2 separate regions of the Homo sapiens genome follow, and region 1 is linked to region 2. The links come from fine-mapping of genetic effects on gene expression. A gene starts in region 2. The other region holds a variant in brackets. All regions are shown on one strand. Distances are from middle to middle.

Evidence for each region. PIP is the estimated chance that this variant, and not a neighbour inherited with it, causes the effect.
Region 1: its variant is the best candidate, but not a certain one, in a credible set for the expression of PIR in nasal epithelium (TOPMed, PIP 0.53).

Annotation. Positions count from the first base shown.
Region 1 is chrX:15,418,752-15,422,751 of GRCh38, forward strand. All of the region lies in intron 6 of PIR (pirin), which reads right to left. The region is part of intron 5 of PIR-FIGF (PIR-FIGF readthrough); the gene reads right to left. Among named protein-coding and RNA genes, the nearest start is that of VEGFD, 36 kb to the left of the region's middle. The variant TTC/T (reference allele first, on the strand shown) is at 1,566.
Region 2 is chrX:15,491,344-15,495,809 of GRCh38, forward strand. PIR (pirin) reads right to left here and starts at 1,990. Exons shown (of 10, transcript NM_001018109.3): 1 at 1,847-1,990. RefSeq lists enhancers at 1,400-1,902, 1,903-2,406.

The DNA of each region.
Region 1 (4,000 bases), 73 kb before region 2:
ATGAGAAACGTTTTCAGTCTCCCTTAACTGGATTTCCCTTGGAATATATGCATTTTCCCAGTATCAGGGAGAGGATGGTAGCAGTGTATGCTTCTATTGCTATCCAATTAGTCTGTTAATGATAAAACCAAGTCAACATTAAATTAGTTAGACTGCAAAGCTTATGCCAAAAGCCAAACATAATCCAGACATCCATGTCAAATCCCTTTACCATGAGTAACAAAACAATCAAAACATTATAAACGAAACATGTCCAGGACCCAGCCAATGGCCTACACATTTCACGAAATATTTGATACAACAAAGCACCCAAATAAAAAGAATCTAGACAGTCCTTGGAGTTTATGATGGAATTTGACCTGGAAAGGTGGAAAAAAAAAAAAGACAAATGGTGACCTTGATTTGAATTACTTCATAATAAACTTTATACAGCATAATTTTACCATCCAGTATGTCTGATGACAGGCAGCCAGGACTATCAAAGCTGCAAATAATGAGTGCTTTATAATACTTGAATTAATTGTTAGGCACTAAACAGAGAAGCCTCAAACTTTGTATTTGTCACCTAATGCAGTGGAAGCATGGATAAGTCTGTGTGTGTGTGTGTGTGTGTGTGTGTGTGTGTGTGTGTGTGTGTAAGACAGAGAGAGAGATAGGGGAGGGAGAGAGAGAGAGAGATACAGACAGACAGACTGAGAAAGAGAGAACACTATAACTAAAAGTGATGTATTGGAAAAGAAAGGATCTTTTGCTTCATAGCTGGGTTCATAACGCACTTGTTTAAAGTGGGTTTACAGACGCTCAATGCTAAATGTGCAATTCTAAGCTATTTCCTGTTGTATCCCTATAAAAATGTTTTTGAGGCCGGGTGTGGTAGTTCATGCCTGTAATCCCAGCACTTTGGGAGGCCGAGGTGGATGGATTACCTGAGGTCAGGAGTTTGAGACCAGCCTGGCCAACATGGTGAAACCCCATCTCAACTAAAAATACAAAAATTAGTTGGGCGTGGTGGTGGGTGCCTGTAATCCCAGCTACTCAGGAGGCTGAGGCAGGAGAATCGCTTGAACCCGGGAGGCAGAGGTTGCAGTGAGCCGAGATCATGCCATTGCACTCCAGCCTGGGCGACAAGAGCTAAACTCCGTGTCAAAAAAAAAAAAGTGTTTGAGGCTGGGCGCAGTGGCTCACACCTGTAATCCCAACTTTGGGAGGCCGAGGTGGGCGGATCACCTGAGGTCAGGAGTTCAAGACCAGCCTGGGCAACATGGTCAAACCCCGTCGCTACTAAAAATACAAAAATTAGCCAGGCATGGTGGCATGCGCCTGTAGTCTCAGGTACTCGGGAGGCTGAGGCAGGAGAATCACTTGAACCTGGGAGGCAGAGGTTGCAGTGAGCCGCGATCACACCACTGCACTTCAGCCTGGGCGACAGAGCAAGACTTCATCTCAAAACAACAACAACGACAACAACAACAACAACAAAACATGATTGAAAACAAATCTCAGGTTTAAAATTCATGATGACAAAATAAAATGCAAATACAGCTTTGGAAACTGACAGATATACG[TTC/T]TCTCTCAGGAGGCAATATAAGGTGATGTCTGAGAGCAGAGCAAAAATGAACATGAACCATACACTTCCTGCTAGTGGGATTGTGGAGAAACTGGTATTCTATATGCTGCTAATAGAAAGTGTGACTGCCTCTTTGGATTGCAACCTGACAATGTCTTTTAAAACTAAGCATGCATAGATCTGGTGACCATCCCTGGAAACCTGTCTCATCAAAATAAATTTCCACATGGGAAGGCAGATACACAAGGTATTCATTGCAGACCAGTTTGCTGTAGCCAAGCACTAGGAACAAAGTGAATTCCCATTGATAGAAAATAGCTAAATACATCATAGTATGTATTTAGATGATGTAGAATATCACTGTTAAAAGGAGCCACCATTAATGATGAGTGCCTGTAGTCCTAGCTACTTGGGAGGCTGGGGTGGGAAGATCTCTTGGGCACAGGAGTTCGAGGTTGCAGTGAGCTATAATTGTGCCACTTTACTCCAGCCTGGGTGACACAGAGAAACCCTGTCTCTTAAACAAAACAAAACAAAAGGAGCTATATAAGTAAACTGGGAAGGATTTCCATGAGTATTTTTCAGTCAAATAAATAGGACGTAAAAGAGTAGTTATGATTCCATTTTATTAAAATGACAAAATAACCTGATATTTGCATATATGTGAATGCACATATATGTCAGTGTATAAAAATAAGTGTGGAGAAAAATACAGCAAGATATAATTCAAGGATATATCTGTGATCTATATAGTGAGGGTACTGGACATAGATAAGGGAGGACAAGGGATTGGAGGAAAGCAACTCAAAAGTTTAAAGATAAAAGCACTGCACTAAAAGGTTAAAGCACACATACACTTAATGTTATAAAAATCACGGATAGTGAAGGCTTATGTTTAAGCAAATTAATCTAAAATTTTTCTGTACTTAAATAGCCAGAATGGAATCCAAAATTAGTAGAAGGAAAGAAATAATCAAGATCAGAGTAGAAGTAAATGAAATTGAGACAAAAAAATACAGAAGATCAATGAAGTGACAAGTTGGTTTTTTGAAAAGATAAATAAAATTGACAAACCTTTAGCTGGACTAAGAATAAATGAGAGAAGACCCAAATAAATAAAATCAGAAATGAAAAAGAAGACACAATAACTGAGACCATAGAAATACAAAGAATCATTAGAGACTATTATGAACAACTATATGCCAAGAAATTGGAAAACCCAGAAAAAATTGATAAATTCCTGGATACATACAACCTACCAAGATTGAACCATGAAGAAATAGAAAACTTCAACAAAGCAATAACTAGTAATGAGATAGAAGCCATAATAAGTCTCCCATAAAAAAAAAAAAAGCCCAAGATCTGATGGCCTCACTGCTGAATTCTACCAAACATTTAAAGACAAATTAATACCAATCCTACTGAAACTCTTCAAAGAGACTGAAGAGGAGGGAGTACTTCCAAATTTATCCTATGAGGCCAGCATTACCCTGATACCAAAACCAGACAAGAACGCAACAAAAAAAGAAAACCACAAGTCAATATTGCTGATGAACATAGATGCAAAAACTCTCAACAAAATACTAGCAAACTGAATTCAACAGCACCTTAAAATGATTGTTCACCATGATCAAGTGTGATTCATCCCAAGGATGCAAAGATGTTTCAACATTCAACATACACAAATCAATAAATGTGACACATCACATTAACAGAATCAAGAAGAAAAAACATCATTATTTCAATAGATGCTGAAAAAGCATTCAATAAAATTCAACATCTCTTTATGACAAAAACCTTTAACAAACTGGGTATAGAATGAACGTACCTCAAAATAATAAAGGCCTTATTATGACAAACCCACAGCTATCACCATATTGAATGGGAAAAAATTGAAAGAATTCAGTTGAAAAACTGAATTCTTCTGAGATCTGGAACAAGAAAAAGATGCCCATTTTAACCACTTTTATTCAACATAATACTGGAAGTCTTGGCCAGAGCAACTAGGCAAGAGAAAAAAAAAAAACAAAGGGCATTCAAATAAGAAAGGAAGAAGTCAAACTAGTCTTGTTCACAGATTACATCATCTTACACTAAGAAAAACTTAAAGACTCCACCAAAAAAAACCTATTAAGACTAATAAACAAATTTGGTAAAGTTGCAGGATACAAAATCAACATACAAAAATTAGTAGCATTTATATACACCAAGAGTGAACAATCTGAAAAAAATATCAAGAAAGCAATCCTATTTACAATGGTTACAAAAAAAGATTATAAAATACCTGGGAATCAACTTAACCAAAGAATTGAAAAATCTATACAAGGAAAACTATAAAACACTGATGATAGAAATTGAAAAGGACACAAAAAAAATTGAAAGCTATTCTGTGCTCATGGATTGGAAGAATTAATATCATTAAAATGACAATAC
Region 2 (4,466 bases):
AAAGGAGGGAACATCCAAGGACTACAAAATAAATGATATTAAGATTAGATGCGCAAAATAGTAGCAGCTACAATTTGTTGATGTCTTACTATGTGCAGGGCCTGGGTTAGGTGATTTAAAACAACCATAATGATGGTGAACATGTATGCATACCTACTAGGTGCCCAGTACCCCACCAATTATTTACAACTATCTCATGTAATCCTACAGTAATCTTGTGCGAAGGTTAGCGATACAGTCATGTGCCTGCCACATAATGACATTCAGGTCAACATTACACAGTCAACAATATATGGACTGTATGTATGACAGTAGTCCCATAAGACTATAATGCCATATTTTTACTGTATCTTTTCTATGTTTAGGTATGTTTAGATACACAAATACTCACCACGGTGTTGCAGTTGCCTCAGTATTCAGTACAGGAACATGCTGTATGGGTTTGTAGCCTAGGAACAATAGGCTATACCATATATCCTACTACACACCTAGGTTATACCAGCTAGGTTTGTCTAAGTGTACTCTAAGATGCTTGCACAACGACAAAATCACCTAACAATGCATTTCTCCGAACATATCCCCATCGTTAAGTGAAGCATGACTTTAGCAGCTCTGTTGGCCCCTTACTAAAAATCTCCAATGAACACTTTGTCTTTCTTACTTCACTGAATTCTCTCGATCTCCCACCCCTTCCCCAGTGCCACTCATCTGTCAGCCTCACTGGTAGCACCCATGAGGTAGTTGCTACCAATGAGGCTGACAGATGGGGGCAGGTTTGTGTGGCGCCTTAGAGAAAATGGAGAAAAACAAAGAGGTCCCTAACTCTTACCAGAACATGCTGAAGATCTTGGCATTAAAAGAGATCTTCGAGGGTCATTGAATTCAAAGACCCATCTATTCCTGAAGTTCAGGGCCAACATTTTGGGCAAGAAATCTTTCAGCTTACTCATGAAGTCTCCTAGAGCATAGGCAAGTCATGGACCAGCTGTTCTTGGCAATGTATCTCATATTTCAGGACTTACCTATAGCCAGAGTTTGTTATTCGAAAGTCTTTTCCTCTTTGGGAGGTCTAGGTTCTAATGGACTATCCCAGAAGGAATATAATCTATCCCTATTCCACTTCAAGTGTTTGCAGACAGTACCCCCAATCCCTTAAATCTTTTCTTCAAGTGAAATATACCCAATTCCTTCAAAGATTCCTACTGAAACGAAGAGAGGTGCTTTGGCAAAAAGCAGACTCTGGAACCAGACAGCCTAGGTTTGCATCTCAGCTTCACCACATATCAGCTGTGTGACCTGAGGTTTTCTGTGGCTCAGTTTTATCTGTAAAATGGAATGATAAGACCGCCTACCTCAAAGGGGTGCAGTTAGTGCTATGAGAATGTTAGCTGCTGTTATTCAGAAGGGCTCTACTCCACAATACCCTCCACTTAGTCAAGGCCTACCCTAAAATGTATCCTCCCTGAATAGTAATCGATAAATATTTATTGGGTGATAGGTTGCAAGGCGCAGAAACGAGCTTAATACTCAAAGCAGTACAGGCCGGTCATCACCTACATCGAAGCAACCAGAAAGTATCTTTATCCCCATCTAGATTATGTCTGGGTCCTTCCAGACTCCTACGATTAAATTGTATGCATGTGAACAACTGATGAGGTACTTAGATCTCAGTGCTTTGCAGAAAGAAAAGCCGTCTACCATTTTCACCAAATTTCGTAGTACAATTTAAGTATCTCTTGTTATCTCCCCTAGGAGTCTAAAGTGAGCTGGGGAAGGCAGGATTTTGCAAACTGACCGCCAGCATTCCCTCACCTAGTGGACCCCTGCAGGAGCCCCAGGTACTCACGCTGCGGTAGCGGCACCTGGAGCCTTAGCGGCGGGGGTGACGCGAAGAGCCGCCGGGAGCGAGTGCAGGGAGGGCAGGTTAAGAGAGTGTGGGTCCAGTAGCCTCACCGTGACTCAGCGCTTCGCGGCCGGCGGCCTAGAGGAGGCGGGAGGCGGGAGTCTACGGGTCTCGGAGGCCCTGGGGCTCCGCCCTCGGGAATGTCACTCCACTCTCGCTCCGCCCTACGCCTCTCCCAGGCCAGCTTGGCGGCCCTTTGGCCTCCCTGCCTCTCGTGCCGGGAAGAGATGCTCACTCGGGTAATTTAGGCGGCACTTGCTGTGCTCCAGGAGGAAATGTGTGGCCCGGGCAGGTGCTCTGATCGGCGCTCCGGTCGGTCTTGTGGGAAATCTGTTTTTAACTGTAGTCTCCCTGTCACCCAGCCGGCGGAGCTTGGCGGCACGGATTCCAGTGCTGCCTCCACCGCTGGGAGGCACCACTTGACATGACCTGGGACAGGTGGCTCAGTCTCTCTGTGCCTCTGGTTCCTCCTCTATAAAATGAGGATGGTGATGATAATAGTGCCAGCCTTATCGGGCTGAAATGAGAATTAAATGAGCCTGTCACATTCTAAGCACTACAGAATCGTTTGTTCCATAGATAAGTTGCCTGCTGTTTGTCAGTTAGAATTGCGAGAAAAGGAGTGCGGGAGTGGGGACGGGCAGCCATACGTCTTTATTCCTGCCTGAAGAGAAGGCACACTCTAGTGGGGAGATAATTGGTTAAGAGTTTGTATGGTGTTGGAACACAGTGGGCAGGCGTTGGAGAGTTTTTCCAGAAGAATGAGGAGCTGGCACAAGCCAGTGAGGGGATCTAGTTGATTACTAGGATTATTAACTAGTGGTACAGGCATAGCTGCAGTTTCTATTCTCTAAACACCAGAAGGCTCATTGCCTGGTTTTGAGAAAGGAAAGACAGTGGTGTCTCTAAAATAAGGTTGGAAAACTTTGTCTGTGAAGGACCAGATAGTAAATACTTTGACTTTGCAGGCCATGTACATTCTCCAGTTTGCCTTTGTAGCAAGAAAGCAGCCATAGATAACATGTAAATAAATGAATGTGGCTGTAGTTCAATAAAACTTTAATTATGAATACTGAAATATAAATTCATAAAATTCATACAATTTTGAGTTCATATAATTTTTACTTGTCATGAAATATTATCCTTCTTTTGATCTTAAATGTAAAACCACTTAAAATGTAAAAACCATTCTTAGCCCTCTGGCTATACAAAAATAGGTAGTGGGCTACCTACTCATTTTGGCTGCAGGCCTAGTATGCAGATCCCTGCTCTAAAAGAACAGGTTAGTAGAGGAACGAACACTTTTCTCTGGGCTTTTAAAATATCAGTGGGGCTTAAACCCGTCCTCATCACCTTACTTAGGCAGTTCAAGGCTAGCTGAGATAATACACATGAACATTAAAGGTGCTATGGAATAACAAAGTATTGTTTCTTATCGTCATTGTAACTAGTTCTGCAACTGTCTCCTCTACCTCTGCAGCTGTAATAGGTGTACTAGGAGTGAACGTTTCTCCTCTTTGTCTCTCAGAAGCCAGTTACAGGTAAAAGCTAAGTCCAAGGTTGTACATGGTTAGAGCAATGCAGGAATTCCATTTACAGGCCCCTGCAGAAAAAAGAAAAGAAAAGAAAAAAGAACAAGTCTGAAAAGGTAGAAGACTTAAAATGAGGAGAAACAAAGGTGAGAGAGGGAAGAATTCTTACAAATGAACAAAGGGCGTATAATGTTTCACTGTAACAGGGTCCTGTTTTGAGATGAGAAATGTGACCCTGTATATTAAGCTTTGAGCACTTTTCACACTGTCATTGACATCCAGATCAAGATGTGGAGTAGGTGGCTAAATATATGAGTGTGTAGATGGACTGTTGATCACCTTTGGAATCTTGGGAAGCATAAAGAAAACTCATGCTGATATGACAATGAACAAAGCCTTCCCTAAATGATTCCAAATAACACCATTATAATCTTTAAAGACAACCACATTATTTAGGTACCTTGACTCTTTTCTTTTTTATTCACGAATTCCATTTTCCTCCTCTGTAAAACTTATTGAATTTCTTTTCAAAGATACATATTATAGAAGTACATGGGGCCAGGCGCGGTGGCTCACGCCTGTAATCCCAGCACTTTGGGAGGCCGAGGCAGGCAGATCACCTGAGGTCGGGAGTTCGAGACCAGCCTGACCAAAATGGAGAAACCCTGTCTCTACTAAAAGTACAAAATTAGCCAGGCGTGGGGGCGCATGCCTCTAATCCCAGCTACTCGGGAGACTGAGGCAGGAGAATTGCTTGAACCCAGGAGACGGAGGTTGCCGTGAGCCGAGGTCGTGCCATTGCACTCCAGCCTGGGCAACAAGAGTGAAACTCAGTCTCAAAAATTAAAAAAAAAAAAAAAAAAGTACATGGACATCTGAAACACTTCCTTATTTTTGTTTCTTTCTTCTTCAAGCCATCAACTCAAAAATTCTTTCTTGTAGATTTTGTTAATTTGCCCTTCAGGGCAGTGTAGCTGCTATTCATTAGATGACAAATGTCTCTGAAATATTCCATATTATAAAGACTCAGA